3 separate regions of the Homo sapiens genome follow, and all the other regions are linked to region 3. Evidence: fine-mapped QTL for protein levels in blood plasma. A gene starts in region 3. Each other region holds a variant in brackets. All regions are shown on one strand. Distances are from middle to middle.

Evidence for each region. PIP is the chance, under the fine-mapping model, that this variant and not a neighbour inherited with it causes the effect. Protein levels are from antibody-based Olink assays in UK Biobank. Linkage for the fine-mapping came from a reference panel and not from the study's own genotypes, which makes the PIPs less certain.
Region 1: its variant is fine-mapped to the plasma level of the PEPD protein (UK Biobank, PIP above 0.99).
Region 2: its variant is fine-mapped to the plasma level of the PEPD protein (UK Biobank, PIP above 0.99).

The regions. Positions count from the first base shown.
Region 1 is chr19:33,485,523-33,493,696 of GRCh38, forward strand. PEPD (peptidase D) reads right to left here. Exons shown (of 15, transcript NM_000285.4): 5 at 7,768-7,815; 6 at 4,474-4,535. Among named protein-coding and RNA genes, the nearest start is that of PEPD, 32 kb to the right of the region's middle. RefSeq lists enhancers at 570-1,430, 1,431-2,290, 2,291-3,150. The variant T/C (reference allele first, on the strand shown) is at 3,192.
Region 2 is chr19:33,405,212-33,413,367 of GRCh38, forward strand. It overlaps PEPD (peptidase D), which reads right to left. Exons shown (of 15, transcript NM_000285.4): 11 at 6,461-6,538. It overlaps LOC124904692 (a long non-coding RNA gene), which reads left to right. Exons shown (of 2, transcript XR_007067229.1): 2 at 1-3,754. Among named protein-coding and RNA genes, the nearest start is that of CEBPG, 36 kb to the left of the region's middle. RefSeq lists an enhancer at 1,489-2,046. The variant G/A (reference allele first, on the strand shown) is at 7,551.
Region 3 is chr19:33,517,100-33,525,273 of GRCh38, forward strand. PEPD (peptidase D) reads right to left here and starts at 4,692. Exons shown (of 15, transcript NM_000285.4): 1 at 4,645-4,692. The coding sequence starts at 4,661. It overlaps LOC105372370 (a long non-coding RNA gene), which reads left to right and starts at 4,835. Exons shown (of 3, transcript XR_935918.3): 1 at 4,835-4,915; 2 at 6,322-6,397. RefSeq lists enhancers at 3,993-4,956, 4,957-5,919 and a silencer at 4,702-4,901.

The DNA.
Region 1 (8,174 bases), 32 kb before region 3:
AATATTAACTTGATATCCAAGTTAACAGTAACCAGAAAACCACGGTCCTCAAACCACAGATTGGTATTTTGCTGTAATCGTCAAGTTTTAATAATGTCCCTCTACTTCCTGGGTTTTAAAATTCACATCTTCGGATATTAATATTCCTGCATTAACAACCCCCAAATTCAGAATTTCATCTTTAACTGCTTGCTTAAATGGAATCAATTCGTTACCAATTGTCTTCAAATATGCAGGGTGATCTAAGTAAATGCCGAAAGATAAGAAATACACTTAGCCTGAATAAGTGTATTTCTTACACTGATGTAAGAAATGTAAAATACTGACCATATACAATGGCAGGAAACGGAGCCCCTGTCACTCGCTGCCCCGGCCCAGGGCTCCTGGGTACAGCTTCTGTCTGTCTGGGAGGCGACTGCCTTGTGCCAAGAAGGCACCCTCGTTAAGGCATGGAAACTTGATGGACAGGCATCCCTCAGCTCAGGCCACCCAGCCCCTGCCAACAATCCCCCAACAGACCATCTCTCCTTCATGGTCAGTCTCCTGCTCTCAGGAAAACCTGCCCTAACGTCTACCTCCTTAGATGTTTTCAGAGATCTACCATGTCTGACTTTGCTCCCAGCCTTCAGGAGCCAAGTGTTCCAGGGAGCCTATCTTGCCATCCGCAGGAAGAAGTCTCAAGTCTCTTGCTGCAGGGTTCCCCTCCCCATCTCAGCCCCCACTAGCCCCCAAACCAACCCCCCATCATGCCCCCGCCAGGACCTGGCAATGAGCACCCGACCCCATGCCCACACCCACCCCTCCTGCCAGAGCCCGCAGCAAAGCCTGCTCTTCCCAAATCTTCCTTGGGACTGCTCCAATCAAGCCACACACGGAACTGCTGCCTGGGCCGGACCCCAAACTCACAAGCCCCTACAGACCATCCCGGCCTACACCCTTCACGCTACTGTCATCACACCGAGCCACATCACTGGGTGAGCCCAGGGGCCTCAGTCCACAGGGTCTCTCTGGCCGTGTGCATGCCCACCACCCTCAGCCCACCTCTGCCCTGTCCCCTCTGCTCCTTGTCCTCTGCTGTCCCCACACCTCGAGACCCCACACACTCTTACTGCAGGCAGCAGGCGGCCTGGCCCTGATCTGGGGAGGTGGAGGGAGGTCTGAGACCAAGGCTGAGCCCAAATGGGACAGACCCCAGGCCAGGCACCCCGAGTAGCCACACCTGGAGGGGTCCTGGCCCAACCATCCAGCTGGACCAGGGTCCCAAGGGTATAGGCTGGGTGGACAGGTGGGGACCACTGTCTACCACAAGCTCCTCTTCCCTGCAGGCCAGGGGATAAGGGGAGCTGGGGGGGCCCATCAGGTCAAACCAAGAGGCCAAACCTGAACTTCTGTTAGAGGAGGAGGTCAATCGAAGCCCAAGGTGCAAGGTGCTGCAGAGACATTTAAAAGGGTCAAAAAGGACAATGCCGGGAACAAGCAGCTTCATCAGAGCAGTGAGAGGCAACTGGGGCGGAAGCAGCTGCGTATTGGAGAGGAGGACGACAGCAAGATTCATCTTGCTTGGGAAACAGGCTATTAATATCCCAGCTAGCAGCTGGAGGTGCACCCGGCAGGCAGGGGAATGCGGTTGCTGAGCGGCAGCGGCTCTTGGGGACGTGGTCTCTGCCCAGCCCGGCACAAAAGTGCTGGCAGCCTGGGTGAGTGGAAGGCAGGGGGATGAGCTGCACCTGGACCCCAGGAATGCAGACAAGACTGTCCACAGGGAAGCGGCTGGGAGCAGCTGGAGGCAAAGGCTGGGGCCCCATGTCAAGGCCCACGGCATGCAGGGTAGGGGGCACCAGCCAGAGCTCCTGCCTCAGTGAAACAGCCCTGGTGGCAGTGAGGTGGAAGGCCCCGAGGGGAGAGACATGGGTGGATGGCCCCCTGCAGGGGACAAGGAAGGGAGGGAGGAGAACAAGCAGGCCAGAGATGGCCACGAGGGTTCTCACCCGCTGCGCATTGCAACAGCCAAGTCAGAGACTCGGCCAGCAGCCCAAGGCGTAGGTGCGGAAACTGACGCACCAGCACCCGGGGTGGGGGGCAGTGTCTCAGCCCAGCCCCCAGCTGAGGGGCCGGGTGAGCACCCCCCAGTCAGCCCCAGCCTGGCCTGGATCAGAGATTGGAGAGGTACCAGCCCGGTGCCTGGGGAGATGGTGCAAAAGTAAGGCAGTCCCTGGCTCTCCAAAAAGTGTCCCAGTGGTGACAGGGTGGGGTGGGGAGTTTGCAGAGCACAGGCTCCTCTGGGCTCTTGGCAGAGGCCACAGGGACTGGGGGGCAACAGGTGACAGAGACTGGGATGAGAGGTCACACCTAGGAATCCTCCTGGGGGGTAGAACGAGACCTTTGCTTCCTGACACTCACTGACAGTGATGAGGGCCCTGGGGAAGCCCAGGGCCCCACCTGCCTTCCTCGGGGAACCTCAAGGAGCAGCTGGCAGAGCTCTGCTTCAGAGGCCACATCTTGAGCTCCTGGCTGGGAACCACACCCACCACACAGCTGCCAGACGTGGTCCAGGGGGGCTCAGCATTCTCTCTAGAGGAGGAGCAAGCAAAGCTCTCACCGCTGAGAAGGCCCTCGACTCACTGACATCTGGGAAACTGGGAATTGGTGATCCTGGAGCCCACCTGGCCCACCACGCAGATGGGGAGACTGAGGCACAGAGGAGCAATGGGATTTGCTGGGGTTTGCATGCGGGCAACTGTCACTGAGCACCAGCTCTGTGCCAGGCTCCAGGTGAGCATGATCTCCTCCAGTGCCCACCACAAGCCCAGGCAGCACCAGGTTACACGTGGAGGAGCTGAGGGTCCCCCTGCTGCAGAGACCCAAACAGAGGCCATAGAGAGGTTCCATGGCATGGTCGAGGAAAGGTGTGCAGGACACTGGAGACCCAGCACCAGGTAGTGCTGGGGGGATTCAGGGAGTCCCGGGACTGGGACAGGCAGCAGCTGGCTGTGCCCGTAGCCCCTCTGAGGGCCTGGGGGCCTGGGGAGAGAGAGCAGCTCCATGGCCAGCATTTCAACAAGCTGGGCTAATTGCTGCCAGGCGTGGGAGGCGGGGCCGCTTTGGGGAAACTCCCAGGAGGACACGAAGATCTGTGCAGTGAAAAAGCAAACCTACTACCCGCCCCTCCACCCGCCCCACTGCTCTTAGCA[T/C]AGGGGGAGGTGGGAGGTGATACATATTCATGAGCTCATAATCCCTCATCACCCCTACATCACACACAGAGATTCCAGCAGCTTGGGCTCATACATAATTATAAGGCGGTTCCTCCATCACTGCCTTGGTCCACCAGAGGACAACAGAAGACATGGGGGCTGTAGGGGATGCATGATAGGGGAGGGGCTGGGGATCCAGGTCCCAAAGTTGGGGCTGGGAGCTGCCCACTGTCCACGTGCAGCAGCCTCGAGCGCAGGGGCCTTGTCTGCTATGGCATCAGCCAGCAATGCAGGCCACAGACCCCCAGGGCCAGTCACCAGCCAGTCCAGGGACCCAAGCACATCCAGTGGGCAGGGCTCTCCCGCCCTCTCCAGGCTCTCCCGGGGGCTGTGGGTGAGGGGTGACAAGCAGGGGAGGGGCGTCTTTCCCTGTGCCCAAGGTCTGTCCTCCTGCCTGGAGAGAAAAGGGGAACCGCTTCCCAAGCAGGGTTTGGAGGCTCAGCCTGGCGCTTGGTTAAGAGTGAGAAGAGGTTAAAGGGATCCTGCCTGGGATTAGGACAGCAGGGGACACAGGGGAGCTGCTGAGAGCCGGGTTGGAAGGGGTTAATGGCTGGGACTAAGAGAGGGGGCTTGGGACAGGCACGGTGTCTCACATCTGTAATCCCAGCAGTGTGGGAAGCTGAGGTGGGTGGATGACCTGAGGTCACGAGTTCGAGACAAGCCTGGCCAACATGGCAAAACCCCATCTCTACTGAAAATACAAAAATTAGCCGGGTGTAGTGGCGGGTGCCTGTAATCCCAGCTACTCAGGAGGCTGAGGCAGGAGAATCACTTGAATCCGGGAGATGGAGGTTGCAGTGAGCCAAGATCGGGCCATTGCACTCCAGCCTGGGTGACAGAGCAAGACTCCATCTCAAAAAAAATAAAAAAATAAAAGAAAGGGGGTGGTGGCTTGATGCACAGACCACAGGGGCTCACAGCAGATGTTTAGAGGGAAAACAACCCACCTGTGCCTGCCCCTGCCCTTGCCCCTGCCCCTGCCCTGGCCAGGGCTGCCTGAGCACTTTCCTTATGGAGCAAACAGACACGGGGCACCTTTCCTTCAAGAAAAATCAAGGTGATTTTTGGCAAATTATGCTTCTAAACATTTCCTCAAAATGCCCAAACTCCTTAAAAAGAAGTTTGCATAGTTCATGTCTTATTTGTAGACCGGGAAAGACCTGCTAGTGAAGGTGGGAGTGGGGGATGGTGGGGAAAGAGTCCCTGGGGGCCCAGGACTCACTTGCTGATGCCGTCAAAGGAGGCCTCCCTGCAGACACTGCCGCTGTCCGTGTTGACGCCACGCTGGGGAGAGAGAACACAGACATGACACACGGGGCCGCATGGCGCCCCCACAGCCTGCACCCCTGAGGCCTCCAGCTAGGCTCAGGACAGGTAAGAACAGGATCCCCTCCTGCCTTCCCCCAACAGATGAGCCACCCAGCCAGGTAGCTCCAGGCCCGGCCCCAACACAAGGACAGACCTCTTTGCTACCACTTGCCAAGTGGAGGAAGTGGGGGCCCCCCAAACTCTGCAGCATCCCAGCTGCACAGCAAGGCCTTCTCCATGGAGGTCAGAGCACTCTGCTGAAACCAGCCAGGCTGCCCAGGCACAGGCGAGGACCCGGGACCACTCCCAATATAAATCTGCTCTCCCCAGCCTGGTCCATCTTCCCTCTCCTGCACACACTCCCCACTAACTGTATAACATCCGAAAGAGTCCTGTCGAACCCAGCCCTTCTGGGGAGGTGTGCAGGACCTGACTGTGGCAGGACTGCTGTGAAGCAGGGAGACATCCCTCTCTTAACTCCAAGGAGACTCCAAATGGGACTTGGACAGGAATGGAGACAAAACAAGGGACTTGGAGAAAAATGGGCCCTCTCCAGAAAGGCAAGGCATTTTATTTCATTTATTTTACTTATTTTTTTTTGAGACAGTGTCTTGCTCTGTCACCCAGGCTGGAGTGTGGTGGCACCATCTCGGCTCACCTCAGCCTCCACCTCCCAAGTTCAAGTGATTCTCCTGCTTCAGCCTCTCGAGTAGCTGGGATTACAGGTGCGCACCACCATGCCCAGCTAATTTTATATTTTTAGTAGAGACATGGTTTTGCCACGTTGGCCAGGCTTGTCTCGAACTCTTGACCTCAAGTGATCCGCGTACCTCGGCCTTCCAAAGTGCTGGGATTACAGGCATGAGCCACTATGCCCAGCCTGGGCAAGGCATTTTAAATCACCATTTCTTTACCCAGAACTTCAGCTTGATGTCTAATTGTATATCTAAATTGAACACATTGGATCATCTATGACCATAATCATCTCACATAAGTTTCCCTTATAGCCATCAAGACAGTAAAGCAAAAAAAAGGGGCCAAGTGCTAAAGGAAATAACTATTTTGGTAAAAATCAATTAAGAAAAGAGAAAGGCTGGGCACGGTGGCTCACGCCTGTAATCCCAGCACTTTGGGAGGCCGAGGTGGGCAGATCACCTGAGGTTGGGAGTTTGAGACTGATCAACATGGCGAAACCCCGTCTCTAACAAAAAACACAATATTAGCTGGGTGTGGTGGTGCATGCCTGTAATCCCAGCTACTCAGGAGGCTGAGGCAGGAGAATTGCTTGAACCCGGGAGGTGGAGGCTGCGGTGAGCCAAGATCGCTCCACTGCACTCTAGCCGGGCAACAAGAGCAAAACTCCATGTTTGAAATGTTTGTTCTTCAGTGCCATAAAGAAATAGCACTTGAACATAAATTTAATTTATTTAGTAAGGCCATTTTCACTTCCTGCAGAAAGGGTACACTCTCCAGCAGTTTTGCCACGAGAGTTCACCAAACAAAGGAGACAGGGTCGTTTATAACCTGGCGTGTCCACCCTACTGCTGTGTCCGGTTTCCACTGCCTGGAACGGGACCCCACATTCTGTATTTGTCCCGATTGGCTAGCAACTTAGAACTTTTTAAAAGAGGCAAAGGTAGAGGGGGAGAAAGGAAGGAGGAAGTAACTTGTGGAATGCTGAGAAAGGTAAAAACACTTTTAAATAAGGAAGAGGAACAGGCTATGACCTTATGTTTGCTTGGACCAGTATAAGCACATCAGGGCAAATATTTAGGTTAAATTGTGGGAGCTAAAAACATAAAGTATATTGATTTCTTTATTACAGCTAGCAGATATTTAAGAATGTTAGCACAGGTCTTTGAATAAATTTTGCTTCTAAGAGAAGTTACTGTTTATTTCTAATTAGACGGGGAGGAAAGTCTTTGAAGAGAAACCTCTACTTTACTTTTTATATTCCATTTCAAAAAAAAAAAAAAAAAAAGACAAGAGGGAAGGGTCACTTTGGGGGGAAGGCTTGTGGACATGCCTCTTATATGAAACTCCCAAGCTCAAAGAAGTGTAAGAAAGCACACTTCTCTGAGAAATTCCAGAGAATTCTTTGGGGGCACACCACAGCTCAAGTGCCCCCAAAACCCTGCCGGCGTACCCAGAGCCCACCTCGCACCCCCCACCCTAGCCCAGGCCCTCGGTCAGTCACTGCGCCCCACACCCCTGCTACCTTGAGGGCAGACGCCCGGTGGTGTGGTTTTCAGACCCCTTTAACAGGGGAGACAGAGGGTGGGAATAAACTTTCTTTTTTCCTTTTTAAATTTTTTATTTTTAGTTTTCATGGGTAGATATTAGGTGTATACATTTATGGGGTACCTGAAATATTCTGATACAGGTATGCAATGTGGAATAATCACATCAGGATACATGAGCTATCCATCACCTCAAGCATTTATCCTTTCTGTTACAATCCAATTGCACTCTTCTGGTTATTTTTAAATGTACAATAAATTATTGTTGACTGTAGTCACCCTGTTGTGCTATCAAATACCAGATCTGATTTGTTCTACCTAGCTATATTTTGGTACCCATTAAACTGACTTTCTACATCCACAAATTCCAGGAGCTCAGCCTGACACAAATACATCTTCTAGCCAGGTTTAACCTTAGGAGTGGGTGTGGCGCCAGGCCCACATCCTCACGACAGGACACAGCAGGTCCCAGGGAGACTCAAGGATGGGGTCCCATAAACAGCTATTCAGACTGAGCAGGTATCGCTACTTATCACTGATGACCATTCCTCTTGGTTTATTTTTTTCTTTTTTTGAGACAGGGTCCTGTCTGTGGCCCAGACTGGAGCACAGTGGCGCGATCATACCTCACTGCAGCCTCAAACTCCTGGGCTCAAGCACGCCTCCCACCTCAGCCTCCCAAGTAGCTGGGACCACAAGCACATGCCACCAGGCCTGGCTAACTTTTTAATTTGTTGTAAAGACAGGGTCTTGCCATGTTGCCCAGGCTGGCCTGGAACTCCTGGCTCCAAGCGATCCTCCCACCTTGCCTCTCAAGGCACTTGGATAACAGGCGTGAGCCCCTGGACCCAACCCCTCTCCGTTTTTTAATCCTCCCCTATGGGCCCGACCTCTGCAGGAGAGGTGGCCCCCATAAAAACCCTCCCCAGAGCCAAGCACTGCCCCACCCCTGGACACCAGCCACTTACCAAAGTGAGGAGGACAGAGGGCTTCTGTGACGTCAGGACGCTGGCAATCTAGAAGGTCGGAAAGAAAAACCCACTTTAGAGGCACCACTAAGCCTAATGAAGATGACATGCCACCATTCCTTCATAATGACAGTGCACATTTATCAAGCAGATCATTAGAACAGGCGACGTGGGCGCTGCCCTCACCCTGCAGGTGAAGAAACCCAGCTTCCCCTGGTTGAAGGACTTCTGAAAGCCACACAGCCATCGAGGGGCAGAGAGGATAAACCTACACCTGGCTCGCTTCCCACCGCACCGCCCTGCTTCCAGGCACCACACAGATCCCTGGCTCCAAGCAGCCAGCCCTACCCACCCTCCAAGGCCAGCCCCTCTGCCCATCTGCAAAGTCCCTGCTCAAAGACCCGTCC
Region 2 (8,156 bases), 110 kb before region 3:
CAGACCCTCCCTGGGCCCCATGGCAGGGACCCGCCAGCCCAGAGGCAGAAGGCCTCCAAGATGGGTCGGCCAGTGACGGAAGGCTTGGGAACAGTTTTCTGGGGGAAATGCTGCAATGTTTATATGAGAGCCACTTTGGACTTGGTTTGCAGTTTCATTTGAATCTCCTGAGTAGTGGCACGGCTCTTAGCTGTTCAATCCAACAGTTTACACGCGCTCATATTCGGGGCTGCAGAAGCACTGCAGACTCCGATGTGCAGCTGCCCTGGTCAGTGTCCCAGGCCAGGCTGGGGGATTGCTGAGCAGCAGGAAGCACTTGCTTCTCCTCAGTGTGAGACCGAAAGGGAGGCGTATGGGTCACTCTTCCCTTCATCTGCCCCAGTGGGCGGCCCCTGCAGACACGGTGGCGAGCTGTGGTCTCCAGGGTGCATGGGCCGGCTGCCTGCTCCCAGCCAGGCCTTCCGTGGAGTGCCAAGCTCCAAGCGTGGCCAGCAGGGACAAAGGCCACCACTCGGAGTCCCTGAGGCTCCCCGTGCCATGGCCTAACCCACCAAGGGGACCTCTCTCCAGTGCGTTCCTGGGCATCTCTGCCCCCTTTTCGTGTGACGGCCACTCCTCCAGGGCCTCGGCAGACAGGAAAGCTGCCCATGCCGCCAGCCCATGACAGCAGCAGCTTCTGGTCCCCAGAGCCAGCAATCCCTGGTGCACGCGGTGGGTGACGGGAGCAGCTGCGTCCTGTGGGCCTCCTGGGTGTCTGGAGGGAACTGGCATTGCCATTTTATGCATGACATGGACAGAGGCACGGCACCAGTGAGGGGCCCCGGGTCCCAGAAGAGCACTGTGGGGTGCCTCGTCCAGAGGTGGGTGAGACACAAGGACAGCTGCCAGGAAAGCACAGTGGGGTGAGGCCCGGGCGTCAGGGCAGTGGCCTTGGCAGGCGGGAGGGAGAGTCACACGCGCAGCACATGCTGTATTTTGCTTTTTTTGGTGACCAGTGTCTCATGATGTCTGGGAGCACCCAGGATGTCTGGACAAGTGCTGTTCAAACTGTGGGTCATGACATCAGCTGAGGAGGGTGCAGCCACGAAGCACAAACAAGAGACAAACCGAAAACGCGTGGGCAGGTGTCTGCTCATAACCAGGCCTGTCCATGTGTATGAGGACGGGTGAGAATGGAGAGCACGCTCCTAACTGGGATGGGATGGGACGGCCATGCCTGTGGGTCTGGACCCTCCTGAGGGCGTTCTGTGGCCCCAAGAGCATGTCTTTAAGACCGCAGAGTGCTCAGGGCAGGGCTGGCTGGTGACAACAAGTCTCCCTCGGAGGAAACAGCAAGGTGGTGGGGGAGAGCTGGGCTGGGACAGGCAGCAGAGAGCAGGCCTGGGGGCAACGCTCTACCCTGGAGCTCACCAAAGCATTGGGCCCCAGGTGGAGTGGGGCAAGGGGGTCCCCAGGAGCTTGTCACCCATGGGGTCCGCAGCGCGATGGTGGCAGACAGACTCAGGCTGAGTAGACAGCAGGAGTAGGCTGGCCGCATCCCAGGCTGCAGGGCCCATGTGAGGCCAAGGTGGCTGCTGAGGTCCTGGGTGAGCGGGCACCCCATGGCCTGCAGGGTCGAGGTCTCGCCATTATCTAGCCAGGGAAGGAGGGGAAGAGGGCACTGGTGGCTGCTGAGTGTGAGGGCTGGGACAGGTCTCTCCTCCTAGCCAGGCTGGCCACCCACCCCCCATGCCCAGGAGCAACACAAAAGACCAGGCCCAGCAGGGGTGAGGCCTGGCCCATCGTCCTGAGACAACACTGCCCTCTTCTGGCCAGTTCTGGAAGGACAGGCTTGCTGCCCACCAGCTGCATCCCGACTGGGACAACCAAGGCCTGGGGCATCCTGGGACACGTGCTCTAGAAACTCTGCGAGGGGCCACAGTAGATTAAGGCCCCCCTCCAACCCCCACCACCTGATCGGGAAGTGAGGGAGGCAGGAGGAGTGTCCCAGCTGCTTTCCCAACCAGAGCCCTCCACCTCTGCCCTGTGGGGTGAGCCTCTCCAGGACCTGGGGCGGCCTCAGGCCCGGAGTGCTGCAAGGGATGGTCCCTCTCTGGGCGCACTGCTTCCCAGAATCGTGGACCATGCGCCCCCTGCCCTAGCTGCGAAGCTTGCTGGCCTGCAGTGGCTCTGGTGCCCACAGCCCAGGCTGTTTGTGGAAGGAGGGGGCAGCACATGGGGGCTCAGAAGACGACCAGGAGAAGCAGGGGGATGAGTCCTGGCCACCTCTGTGCTCACACAAACCTGTTCGGGGCTGGAGTGAGTGGGGAGGGGTCTTCTGGGGCCTCCCACTTAGGAATGGCCTCCAGTGATCTCAGGCACCTCAATCTGTGTGAACATGTTGAAAGTGTTAATTAGCAAGTGTGCTGCGCTTTTGTAACCCTGTTCTTGAAGGTCTGCCTGAGGGGTTTAAAAAGGAAAACAAAAAAAGCAGCGAATGGCCCCTCTGGTACAGTGACTTGGAGATGGGGTTCATGGCGAACCCCAGGATCACAGCGGGAAAAGACTCTGAGAACAACAGCAAAACCCCCGGAGGCTTGACGGCTACAGGCCCCACATGGGGCCGCTTGGCTCTGAACCAGGCTGAGGGTGTATGCAGCCACCACAAAGTCCCGTCCCTCACCCCTGCGTGCATGCGAGTGGGTGTGGTGGCATCACACCCAGAGAAGCGGGAAGGGGCCCGGGGGTGGCTGGCTGGGGGTGAGGGACGGCCCTCAGGAAGTCTGTCTCAGTCCTTGGCTGACAAGCCTGACCTGAAGCAGGAACCAGGGTGTCTGGTTCATAGGCCCTCTTGGACCATGACTGTGGCCAACAGTGGACTCAGCCTAGCTCCAGGGAAGCTGCTGGAAGGGTAAGGACGGAGCAGTAGGAGGGGGGCCTAGCCAGCCCCAAACCCCGCTTGATGTACGCATCATGGAGGACACTTTTGGGTCGAAGACACGGAACAGGACAACCAGGGGACGGGAGCTGTCTGAGAATAAACCAGGCCTGGCCTGAGCTCTGCCTGTGGCTCCCACCTCCAGCCTGTGCTGCAGAACCAGCTGCTGGAAGTGGGCATCAGGGCCTGGCCTGCCCAGCTCGGTGAGGACACCGGGCCTGCTGCTCTTGCCCGAAGAGGGCCCACGCTGTGCCAGGTGGCCACTGCGAGAGAGGGAGGCAGGGGCTTACACTGTGATCATTGCAACGCAGCACAGCCTCGGTCAGTTCCCTGTGTGTGTATCCATGTGTGTGCGTGTTGGGGGAGTGCTCATATCTGGGACTGTGGAGAGAGGGATGGAAAAGGCTGGCCTCCTCTTAGTACCCCCCACCCTTCTGCAGTACAGCTGTATAATCTGGCTGCCCTGGACCAGCTCTGATTCCCCACAAAATCCCATTCCTAGAAGCTAAAATATCTCTGGGGTGTCTTCCCCCAGTCAAAGGACTAAAACCCAGAGCAGGCCATTGCAGCAGGCGCACTGCTCTGGGAGGCGCTCGGCTTCGGGGGAATTCTACGCTGGGCTCATGCTTTAGTTTCATACCTTAGGATGAAGCATCGTGGCTTTCATGTTGGGATAACAGACTGATTTATTATTTACCGAACGCAGTAGGCGCTCGGCAGATCAATTTCAATACAACAATGGACTATAAATGCCACCAGCAATCTGGCAGTAGCAGTAATCAACAAAACATGTTGTTCTAAATGCTGCATAATAAATTGACTACAATAAACTCATAATTACTCTACTGGCTACATTTCAAAGTTAGCACTAGAAAAATCAAATCACCAATTTGGACTTGGCATTAACATCCTCGGATCACTCCTGCCTCTACAGCTGCAGCTGGGAGATGCAGGTGCCATGTGCTGTCCCGGAGGGCCGAGGCCACAGCATCTGGGATTATGCCAGGACCCTCTCCGGGGCAGATAAAGAGGGTCATAAAGGAGCAGTCACTTCTTCTGGGGTGTGCTGAGCCCACAGAGGAGAAAAGCTCATGGCCACGTGGCTCTGGCACAGGGCTCTCCAGCCACCCAGAAGTGCCCCCTGGACTGTGGGGACCCACTGATGTGGCCTCTGCCGTGAGACTGGGTTCCCATGTCCTGTCCTCCAGGCCCAGCCAGAATGCGCTACAGGGTTAAAGAGCTTTAGAAAAGGTTTCAGGGCTGGGCACCGTGGCTCACATCTGTAATCCCAGCACTTTTGGGAGGCCGAGGCAAGAGGATCACTTAAGTCCAGGAATTCCAGACCAGCCTGGGCAACATGGTGAGACCCTGTCTTTTTAATATTAAAAATAAAAAAATTAGCTGGGCATGGTGGCTTGTACCTGTAGTCTCAGCTACTCGGGAGGCTGAGGTGGGAGGATCTCTTAAGCCTAGGAGTTTGAGGCTGCAGTGAGCTATGATTGTGCCACTGCACTCTAGCCTGGGAGACAGAGCAAGACCGTCTCTTAAAAAGTTTCAGGACACCAGGTGGTGTCTGGAGCCACTGGTGGGTCCACGGTGTGGGGGCAGGGCTGCCACCCCCTCTCCTGCTCTAGTCCCCTGCTGAGCCAAGTCTGAGTTTGCCAATTCTTTCCCCAAGTGCCTCTGGCCTCACACCTGGGCCTGGTGCCCTCCTTGTGTCTGAGTTCCTTGGCCCACACATGGGGTGAGGTGCCTACATCGCAGGATCAGGGCGAGGAGTGGGTGAGAAAATCCACAGAGACCCAGAAGAAGGGCCCAGTCACCTTGTGGCCCCAGGCATGTAGGAGGAAAGCTGAGCTCCGCTCTGACCCTCCCAGCCCCGAGCACGGTGGCTACGCAGGGGGGACTGGGGACTCGCCCACCATTTGTGGGGCTCACTGTGGTGCCAGAGTGAACCAGGATCCGTGGAGCCAGTGCTGTCGGGTAGGCCAGGGAGTCCACTAAGGCCCAGCGCGCAGTGGGTGGCGGTTCCACTGGCCTGCCTCCGCTTGCACCCTCAACCTGCCGTGTTCCTAACACAGCCCTACTGTGGCGGCATATGCTGGCCCCACCCAAGGTCTGAGCTGAGCTCCTGCCAGCATGGCCTGAGCTGGAACAGCTCATCAGCTATGGACCTGGGTGAGCGGGGAGCCCGGGCAGTCTCAGTAGGCCATGTGCCCAAGGGCAGGGAGGACCCCGAGACTGAGTGTGTTCCTGCAAATACTCGGCCCTGACAGCTCAACGCTCGGCAGCTCTCTGGGCAGCTGGTTGTCTGTCCATAGGTCTGGGCATGTGTGTTCCTGTCCTTCAGTGGGCATGGCTGGGGACTCTGGGGGGTGGGCTCCCACGACTACCTGCTGTAGGGTGAGGCGGGGTCCAGGCCGGTGAGCAGCCATCATGGGAACTCCCGCTGGAGGAGCTGGCACATTGGGGTGGCTCCTCGATGGGAAGGCGGAGGCAGCCCAGCTGGGCGCCACGCAGGCCTCAGAGGACATGCCATGCTGCTGGGGGGCAGAGGGCTCTGCAGGAGGCTTGTTCGGGTGCATCTGCCATAGAAGAAAGGGCACCAAAGAACTGGGAGGGACAAGGCACATCCTCTGCTAGTCAGTGACCACAGTGAAATGTCTGGAGGCCAAGACAGGGCCTGCGTGGCTGTGGCTGAGCCCCAGGGCTCCAGCACTGGGGTAGCTCTCAGGAGCTCTGCACTGCCTGGGCTGGCCCTGGCTGACATCTGACGTGCAGGGCACAGGCAAAGAACGCGGAGGGACTGAGCAGAGGCCAGGCTGCAAGTACTCACACACCTCCTCCCTGCCCCGGGGCAGCGGCCCAGCTGCTCTGCCCTGCACACCGAGGGGCTGTGGGTAGGACTGCAAGTCCTCCAATGAGAGAAAAGACTACCCGAGGGGCGGAGGCCGCAGGGCCTGCCCACATCTCCTTGTCGTGGCTTCTATGAAGAACTGTGAGCACGGCACATCGTGCTCAGGAAAGCCCTGCACGCAGCCACGGGTCAGCACTGCTGACTTGCTGAACGCAGGGCCGCAGAGGCCACGGGCTCCTGCAGCAGGAGGATGGCAGGTTTCAGAGCGTGGGAGGCTCCCTGCGGTCTTCCCAGCTCCAGACCAAGAGGCCTGCCCTCCTGGCACCAAGACAGAAAGATGCGAGCGTGGTGCCCCCTGAACGGAGAGGACAGCCTGGACAGAGGCTGGGGATGGTTCAGGCCCCCTCAGAGAGCCCACAATCCCATGGCCCACAGGAAACCATCGGGGGCCCCTCTCCTGCACCCTCTCTCTCAGTGCTCCCTGGGGGGTGCAGGCTTTTGGCCCTGGAGAAGGCACCACGCAGGCCGATAGCCTTGGCAGAGAAGTCTGGGCCAAGAAGCCCAGGGACTTGCTGTGGTCAGCCCTCTCAGGACAGGGACCCAGAGGCTTCTGGGCCATCTTGAAGTTGAGTCCAACCTTGGCCTGGCTGTTCACACACAGAGCCAGGGCCGCTGGCCCTACTTACCACATATCCCCATTCTGGATCGTTCGGTCGTTGGGAGCTCCGGCGTGTCCGTAGTGTAGCACGGCTGAGTTCTCACCACTGCAAAGAGCCGGGGGAGGGTGATCAAAGCCCATTCTTCTGCAGCAGGCTCTGAAGGAGGGGGTGGATGCTCGATCCCCTGCCCATGAGCAGCACTGTCCCCACCTCCAGCACAGGCCCAGGCGTGGCTGGACCAGGTCCACAGCCAGAGGTAAGGCCGGGGGACATGGTGGCCCTGTCACCCCGCAGTCACATGGCTGGCAACCAGCCTCAGTCTGCAGGCAGAGCCTCCTGGCTGAAGGCGTCGTTAGGCGGCTGCCCTCTGGGCTGGGATGTGGGCATCATGTGGAACACATGTAAAACTTAGCAATGGGCCGGGTGTGGTGGCTCACGCCTGTCATGCCAGCACTTTGGGAGGCCAAGAAAGGCAGATCACTTGAGCCCACAAGTTCGAGACCAGCCTGGGCAACATGGCGAAACCCTACCTCTACAGAAAATGCAAAAAAAATTAGCTGGGTTAGGTGGCTCACAGCTGTAATCCCAGTTACTCAGGAGGCTGAGCTAGGAGGATCACCTGAGCCTGGGAAGTGGAGACTGCAATGAGCTATGATCATGCCACCGCACTCCAGCCTGGGCAAAAGAGGGAGACCCTGTCTTTAAATTAAAAAAAGAGCAAAAAAGGGGAACAGCAGTTCCTGGGCCTGGAGAAGGGCCCTACGGAACCCCTCCTTTCCTGGTGGCCAAAGGGGAGAGGGCCTCTATGGAAAGGGCCCCGGCTGTCCTGGAGCTGCCCTGGCGTCCTGACCAGGCTGGAGAGAGAGGAAACCAAGAGGATCCTCGCTCCTCTGCCTGAGAAGGCTTCCCTAATGAGCGATGCCTTTAAGAAAAAAAGGACTTTTAAGTCTGTCCAAAGGGGGGAAGGAAACCCCCACCTGGGTGTAATATTTATGGCCCTGCTCAGGAGTCTTGGGAATCATAAAAGTAGAAATAATGGTTTTCTCTCCATCCACCAGAGAAGAACATTTCCAAGGACTGAGATTTCACATGTATTATTCATGTGCCGGGGACGTGC[G/A]CATTGGCAGAGCTGCCTGGCTCCATCCTGGCCGGGCAGGGGCCAGACCCGAGGGGCAGAGAGCAGGGAGACTGGCTGGGAGAGCGCAGGAGACGAGGGGGCCACGCCCACAGCCAGGACGCATGTGGGGGCAGACACACCCCAAGGGACACATGCCGCTGTGCATGGCCCACACAGCATGGCAATGATCCCATATCACTGTCATTTCTACCATGTGTGTGCCTCCAAGCACACCCAGCCAGGTGTTGATGGCACACACCCAAGCGCACACACCCACACAGAGCCCTGCCCCTCGGCACCATGTGCCACGAGCAGGCACACCAACAGTGACATGCACACCCACATACAGCAGCACTGGTCCCCACGCAGCCACACCCACATAGACACACCACCACCACTTTCTGCACTGACCCTTCCACACTCCACCCCTGCTGCACACAGAAGCTGCCCAGCCTGAGCTCACAGCCCGGTCCCCACATGCTGTGTGTGTGCCCGTGTGGAGGAGTGGCCTTCCTGTGCTTAGCTGCTGTGCTGACCAGCTGGGGACAGGAGGGAGGGGACGCCAAGCAGCCCCTCTGCAGTGGGCAGGCCATGCTCCCTCCTTCA
Region 3 (8,174 bases):
GAGCACTGGAGGCGGAGACTACAGTGAGCTGAGATCGCAACACTACACTCCAGCCTGGGGGACAGGGCGAGACCCTGTCTCAAATTTATGTAACATTTTGATACCTGTATTTCCATATAATTGGGTTTTACTTTTGTAATATTATGTACTTATTTCATACATTTAAAAACATTATGCCAGCCAGGTGTGGTGGCTCATGCCTATAATCCCAACATTTTAGGAGGCCGACATGGGCAGATCACCTGAGGTCAGGAGTTCGATACCACCTGGCCAACATGGTGAGCCCCTGTGTCTACTAAAAATACAAAAATTAGCTGGGCATAGTGGCACACACCTATAATCCCAGCCACTCGGGAGGCTGAGGCAGGAAAATCACTTGAATCTGGGAGGCGGAGGTTGCAGTGAGCCAAGATCAAGCCACCGCACTCCAGCCTGGGTGAAAGAGCAAGACTCCGTTTCAAAAAAAACAAAAAACAAAAAACAAAAAAAAACCTGATGCCGAGAATGGTACGTAGGTTTCACTGATGCCCGTGGGGTCTACCGCACAGACAAGGAAAGATCTCTGCACTAGAATGTGGAGCCACTGGCCAGGTGCGGTGGCTCACGCCTGTAATACCAGCACTTGGGGAGGCTGAAGTGGGTGGGTCACGAGGTCAGGAGTTTGAGACCAGCCTGGCCAACATAATGAAACCCCATCCCTATTAAAAATACAAAAAAATTAGCCAGGCATGGTAGTGGGCACCTGTAATCCCAGCTACTCGGGAGGCTGAGGCAGGAGAACCACTTGAACCCGGGAGGCGGAGGTTGCAGTGAGCCGAGATCGCGCCATTGCACTCCAGTGTGAGACTCCCTCTCAAAAAAAAAAAAAAAATGAAATGTGGAGCCACTTCTAGACAGGGTCACACCGCTAAGTTCCCAGTAGGAGAGGCCAGCCAAGGACCAGCCACCTCCTCCCCTCAGCCTCCAGCGTGGGGCCAGGCACCAGACAGATGCTCAGGCAGCCCACTGGGCACCAGACCGTAAGCGCCAGGCTGGAGAGGGTTGCCACGGCGGAACAGGACCTCGAGGCAACTGGCCAGCAACCTCCACCTTGCACCTCTGTCTCCTGGGGCGGATAGGGGTGCCAAGCATACACAGAAACCAAGAGACAGCTGTGTGGAGTCAGGACCTGGGGAAGAGCCAGGGAAGGCACAGGGATACTCAGTGGCCAGCCTGCCTCCCATAGGCCCACCCGTCCCTAGCCCCCAGTCGGCCTGAGTCTTCTGCTCCTGGAGCACAAGGTTCACATTGTGGGGTTGGGCTCTTGACCCAGAATGTGAATTCTGCAGAAGACTCTCCAGAAGAATGCTGACTCCAGTGTAACCTACGGCTCAACAGGGGTACACGTCCAGGGCAGTTCACCTTTGCCTCTTTTTGGCTCTGCAACAGCTCCTGGGAGCCACTCAGTTAAAGAATTAAGGCTATTTCTTCATCCTACCCCTCGGAATTCTGTCCCCATTCCCCACCATGACTCCTTCCCTCAATCACTGGGAGTCTCCCAGGAAAGCAGGATGGGATGCTGGACTAATTTAGAGTAAATCCCCTTTTCATTCATTTCACCAAGCACCAATCACAGGGCAGCCACAGACTGGCCCTGCGGATACAAAAGAACCCCAGGGGTTCTAAGGATGCTAGGAGAGGCATGAAGGGAAGCAACTCCTAACCCACAATGGGCAGACGTGTAAAAGTGTACTGCTGGGGAGAAAACTGAGTGTTCTGGAGTTCTGAGCACTAAACCTTTACCCGAGGGCTGGGAAAGGCTTCTGGGAAAGGGAACCATCTGAGCTGGGCCTGCAAATACGTGAAGAATCATATAGAGGACAAGAACATTCCAGGGCTAGTTGGGTGAGTGTGCAAGGGAAGAAGGGAATGGAAAAAGCCATGTGGGAGAGCAGATGCAGACAGGTCTGGCTGGAGCTGACAGATTTCAAATTATCAATCCTGTCTGTGGAAAGCTCAAAGCATTGCTTAAGGAGACAGCAGCAGTGCCACCAAGTGCCATGGGATAGGGACCCCTCTCCATGAGGGGATGGGAGGTGACCTCAGCGCACTCTGTCTCAACCTGAAGCCTACACCCAGGCTAGCAAGAGAAAGTAGGATCAACCCTGAAACACCCCACATCTTAAAAAGAGAGATGCATTCAGAGTAGATTCTTGAGTTTCAAATTAAATCTGAGATGCTAGTTTAGGGCTTCCCCTACTCCCCAAATCATATGGGGCACACCCCAGTCACCTGGAACTCTCATGGACCCCCTCTGTCCCAGGCTCTGGTAGGATTCTACAGACAACCAAACCCAACTCCCAGTGAGCCCACGGCAATGGCCGTGACTTGCTGGCATCATGCCTCGTTATGCCTGACTCTATGATCTGTTCTGTGAGTGTGGCTAGGAGCTGAGCTTTGCGGGAAACACACTTAATCATTCTGCTCTAAAGGAAGCCACTGGGGTCAACCTCAGGCTCAAAGTACATGGGAAAGCCCCATACCAGACTGGGATGGCTCTTCCCAAGGAGACTGCCAGGCTCTGGAAGCTCCCACACCCTCTCAATAGCAGACCTCTCTAAGACCTGCCACTCTGTTTTGCCTCCCTCACCCACCCTGTGTGGTGGCCCAGAGAATCGGTTCTGCTAGAAAAGCTCTCATTCTGGGGCCAGGCGTGGTGGCTCACACCTGTAATCCTAGCACTTTGGGAGGCGGAGGCGGGTGGATCACCTGAGGTCAGGAGTTCGAGACCAGTCTGGCCAACATGGTGAAACCCCATCTCCACTAAAAATACAAAAAATTAGCTGAGTGTGGTGGCACACGCCTGTAATTCCAGCTACTCAGGAGGCTGAGGCAGAAGACTCGCTTGAACCTGGGAGGTGGAGGTTGCAGTGAGCCATCATGCCATTGCACTCCAGACTGGGCAACAAGAGCAAAACTACGTCTCAAAAAAAAAAAAAGAAAGAGAAAAAGAAAAGCTCTCATTCCAGGATCCAGTCAGTTCCAGACTTGCTCCCGTCCAGACATCAGCTTGGTTCCTTCAGGAGAGCAGCAGGTCTCAGGCCAGCTTGGAATCCTGAACCCAAATGCAACCCCTGGCACTCCCTGTGAGCACCGAGCCAGCCTAACCAGAGAGACAGCACACCCACAGCTGGGCACCAGCCTGCTCAGTCTACCCTTTAAAAGGGTCACAGGCTGGATTCAAGGATCTGACCCTGAGTTCCTTGACACCCATCTGAGACTTTGTCTGCACTGTTCTCTACCTGAAGGGAGTCTCATTGCTGAAGGACTAGCACAAAAGTCACCCAGGAAGTGAAGCCTTCCCACACTTTATCTGAGCTCAGAGTCCATGCCCCTCCTTTGCAAATGGCAAGACCACACGGCAAGCAGATGGATGACAGAGTCCCATGTGTCCATCTGTTCCAGTGGCCTGTGAGTACCTTAAGGGAAGACCCACTGCTATTCCTGGAATATAGCAGGTGCCCACAAAATATTTGATTTGTATGCTCTAAGCTCCCTCAACCTTGGGGGCCAACTTAGAACCCACTTTCTGTTGCCATTTTCCCTGTATCTTAAAAAGAGAGATGCATTCAGTCCACTAGATCCCCCATTCTGACCTCAGTTTCCAACCTGGCATCTGGAATACTGCTCCCTCCTACACCATGCCCCCTCTACCCCACTGTACCACCAGACCCACACCTTCTCCCATTGAACTCACACATAGCTCAGGGGAGCCTAATCTTTAAAAAACAGATCAAGCAGCTTGTAACAAAACCCTTCCAGCCCATCAGGGCAAAGTCTGAAGCCGCCACCTGGAACACCACACCTTCCAACCAGCCCCAGGCATGCACCCCTGTCCCCAGAACACTCTGAACTCTCAACCTTTGTCCCTTACCCTGGGCTCAGATGCTCCCTATCTGGGAGATTCCGCCCAACGCTCTGGTGAACCCATCTGTCCACCCTTCCTCCCACTACGACCACTCAGCTTTCTTTCATTTAGCCCAGTATGGAGCACCTACTGTGTGCAAGGCACCGGGCTACTGAGAAGCAGGTAACATACCTGCCCTTGCACTCTAAATGCAGAGAAGATAAAGAACAAGTACAAACAATGCTCTATATAGTTTATCAGGTGATGATGAGGGCACAAAAAGTGGGATAGATGGTTAGAGAAGGATTCCCTGAGGGGGTGACATTTGGCCCCTGAAAGAAATGGGGAAGTGCCCTGCTGGGAAAAGGGAATTCCAAGTCCGTCTCGAATACCGCCTCCTCCGGGAAGCGCCCGGGTCCCTGGGGTCCTCGCAACGCCGCCCTCCTACCCGGGGGTCTTGGCAGCGAACATGCGTGTCGACCCCAGCCCCCACCGCAGCCGCACACGGTGGGGCCGCCAGACGCGGGCAGGTGGGGCCGGAGCCAGCCAGGAGGGTGGAGAGGAGCTGCGGCCCCCGCGCTGACCCTGACTCGGAGCGTGCAGCTCGCCGACCGGCGCTGGGACTCCGGGCCAACGGGAAGAGGCGCCTACCCGCGGCATTCAGCGACCCCGGCTGACGCTCTCACCCGCGGTCCGGCCGGGACACCCATGCCCCTCTCCACGCCAGCGGGAAAGAGCGAGGGAGGCGCAGCACTCACCCGGTGGCCGCCGCCATGTTCGCCCGGCACCGGCGTCACGTGAAGTGCGGCGTCAGCTGAGCCCCTCCGGGTGCCAATGCATGGGGCGGGGTAAGGGCGGGGCAGGGGGCGGGGCATGGAGTCCTTGACCCACCTCCTCCAGAGCCAAATTCCACGGGACGGGAAGGGGCGGTACCTGGGGAAGGGCGGAGCCCCGATGGGGCGGGGCTCCCGGAGATTGGGGGCCCAAGAGCTCGGCCAGGATAAATGAGCGGGCTGCCGGCTGCAGACAGTAGGTCGGGTTAGCGGGCAGCATCTGCAGCCTTTTCGTGGTGGGAGGGAGGTCCTGAAGCAGAGGACATCTTGATTCTGGTTCAGTCCCCGATCTGGCGTACCAGCCCACCCGGGAGAAGAACACATAGGAATAAAGAAACCACGTGGGAGGAGAGGAGGGAGACTGACCCAGGCTAGGGTCGGGGCAGAGGTGGCGATTTTTGTTTAAGAAGGGAAAGGGCTTGAGCAAAGGCCGTGGGGCAACTGGAGGACTCTAAATGTGCAGCGTCCAGGAGAATGTGCGCGAGAGAGGGGCAGCCTAAGGGAAGCAAGGGCCAGACCCTGCGGGGCCTCCACTGTGGGGCCTATGAGTTAAGTCTGGTAGGATCTTTTCTAGGTTTCCTGGGCTGCAGAATGGAGAAGCTGGAGGAAGGGAAGCCAGGGAGGAGGGCAGGCGAGAAGTGGGCACAGCCGAGAAGGGTTTAGGAGGGAGAGTCTGCCAGAAGGCTTACTCCTCTGCCCCACTGGGCACTGGTACTGGGTGCAGAGTCCTGCAGAGAAGGTGTAGGGACCCTGCAGCAGACGCTGCCCTCCCTACTGCCAACAGAGTCAGGGCATTACAAGCACGGCCCAAATGCGTTGCACATGTGAGCTCATAGAAACCTCACCACAGCCCTATGAGGTCGAGACTATCTTTAAGTCTATTATACAGATGAGGAAACTGAGGCCAGAGAGTGCTCACACAGAGGCTGAGCTCATGAAGCCATACCCTGAGGAGTGACCTCACTGCCCCTGTGAAGGAAGGGGGCCCCACACTGTTGGGGGAGGGCGTCCCTGGCGCCAAGGGTGTACAGATGTGTGTGGTGTACAGATGTGTGTGGACAGGTGGATGGGTGGCCCAGGATAGGCGTGTGGGGCTCCTGACCCCACCCTGCAGCTGTCCCACAGCTGGAAGTGGCTTCTGATCAAAGGTTGTGGGTTGGGGGATGCTTCTTGTTTCTTTATCGAAACAAGGATGTGGGTCACCATGGCCAGGCTGGTGGGAGCCAGGGGCTATGACTGGAGAAGCAGCTTCTGTTTGTCCCCATGAAGCAGGGAGGAGAATAGGCCCCTTAAATAGGAGCAAGGGAGCCAGCCATAAGCAGGGTAGTGAAGGGCACGTGGCACAGTTACCTGGAAGCCCAGTACCATCCCTGCTGTCCTCATCTGTCAGGAGAGAGCTAATGGGGCCACCTCACAGGGCTGCTAGAGGGTTTTACACTCAAACCTGCAGGCACAGCCAGAGACCAAAGCTGCCAGGAGGAATGTGGCCCCTCCAGACAGCCCCTCCCACCTCCCGGTCCCAGATAAGGAAAACGAGAGCTAATGGAAGAGGGGGGGCCTCATCCCTTCTACCCCTTCCCACAACACATGGACAATTTGCAGGGGTCCCTGACCTCCAGGCAAGGTCCAAGAGGAGCTCTCTCCACCCTCTTGCCAGTTTCCAGGAAGAAGAACAGAGGTAAGGATTCACACCCCACTGCCTGGCCTAGGGGCCCCTGAGAACTTCTAACACCCCTAGTTAAGCAGTAGGTCCGCCTTCAGCTTAAGAAACTCAACTCCCTAGTAAGTGGCGCTTTAAAAAATACATAATAACAAAGGGTGAGCAGAATGAGCTTTCCATGCGCCTTCAAGGAAGGAAAACATACCCCCCAGCTCATTCATTGCACCTGCCTCCCACCATTTCTTTTGACATAAAATATGTCAAAATTAAGCCAGCTGCCAGCTCTGAGTGCTTACTAATATGAAAAAGAAGTCAATATCCCAAACACAAAATAATGGAAGGAAGGCACCCACCAACTGAGTGGAGCTCCCTTGTTTGTGGACAGTAATATGGAGGCACTGCCCATGACCCCTGCCCACCCAGGTCCCCTGCCCTCTCCCCTCCCCATCAGGGGCTCCGGCAGGGCTGCCCCTCACCCCTCACCCCTCCCCATCAGAGGCTGTGGCAGGGGCTCCAGAAGCCGCCCAGAATATGGGAGAAGACCATTTAGTTACTTATGCAGGGCAGACCCAGGACGTTGCTGGAGCCAGGAGGCAATTGGGGGAAGATTGATTTTAGAGAGTCGAAGTGGGAGTGTGTAAATCAGCCAAGGCAGCGCGCCAGGCAGCACTCTCATGCGGCATTGCCTCCGAGGTCACAGGCCCTTGTGGCCGAAACAGTCTCCTCTCGTCAAGCCCTGCAGGTGGCTGGTAGATGTCTGCACTCGGTCAGCCTGGTAGCCCGGTAGCCAGCATAGCATTATTCTCCAGAAGGGCCCCCCCAACTCCCGTCAGGCCTTGCAAAAGAAGCTTCACCCTGGGAAGACACCTCTTGTGTCCCGGGACACTGTGTCCAGCCAGGTTTCCCTCCTCCACCCATTCCCCACAATCTAGCCCCCACTCTTGCAACTCCGTGGACGCTGCTGACAGCTGGCTGCCTGGAGACGGCAGGCCCAGATGTGGCGGCCTGCTAGGCTCTGACTCATGAGCCACCCTTGGGCCATGAAGGGGAGGTCCCCGGGAAGAGCCCTGTCCATCTTCTGCTGTGGATTGAGGGCACTGGTCTACCAGAGGCTCTGTGGGACTGCACTGGAGGTAGCCTGGATGCTGGTTCTGCCCTGCACCACCCAGTTGTTGCCCACAGTGCCACTCCAGGACTGGCCATGCTGTGAGGGCCAGGGATCCAGACCCTGCCCTTGCCTAGAGGATCTTTGGTCTGGGGACAGAGGTAGAGGAGCCCTCCACACTGTCCCTGGGGAGTCCACCATCTGGGAGGGCCTCAGAACGGGGCTTCGAGGGTTCTGCTTTTGGCTAATGGGGAGATCCTGGGGGATTCTGAGCTGCAAGCTGCCGATCCAAACCCCTCTCTCCAGCAGGAGCTCAGGAGGATTAGCAGAGAGAACTGAAAAGAGCCAATAAGAGCCAATAAAGCCACTGCACGGGGCCGCCAGCCTCAGATGGTCAAAGCCCTACACAAGATGGCATTTGGGTGTTTTGCGATTGTTTGCTTTTGCTGAGAATAGAAGACTGGATGCAGAAAGCCAGCACCAAATAAACAGAAGAGGAAGAATAGAGGGGACTGTGGGTGTGAGATAGGGGCAGGGTGGCATATGGCAACCCAGTGTCTTCCCAAGTGGGAAAGCAAGGAGCGTGATGGGTGTGGAATGCCCAGGAGACCGTCTCTCTATCCTGGTTCTGGCAGATCCCAGCCTTGGGCCTTTGCAGGGCCTGCAGAGGTAGCCACAGCTCTCCCACTC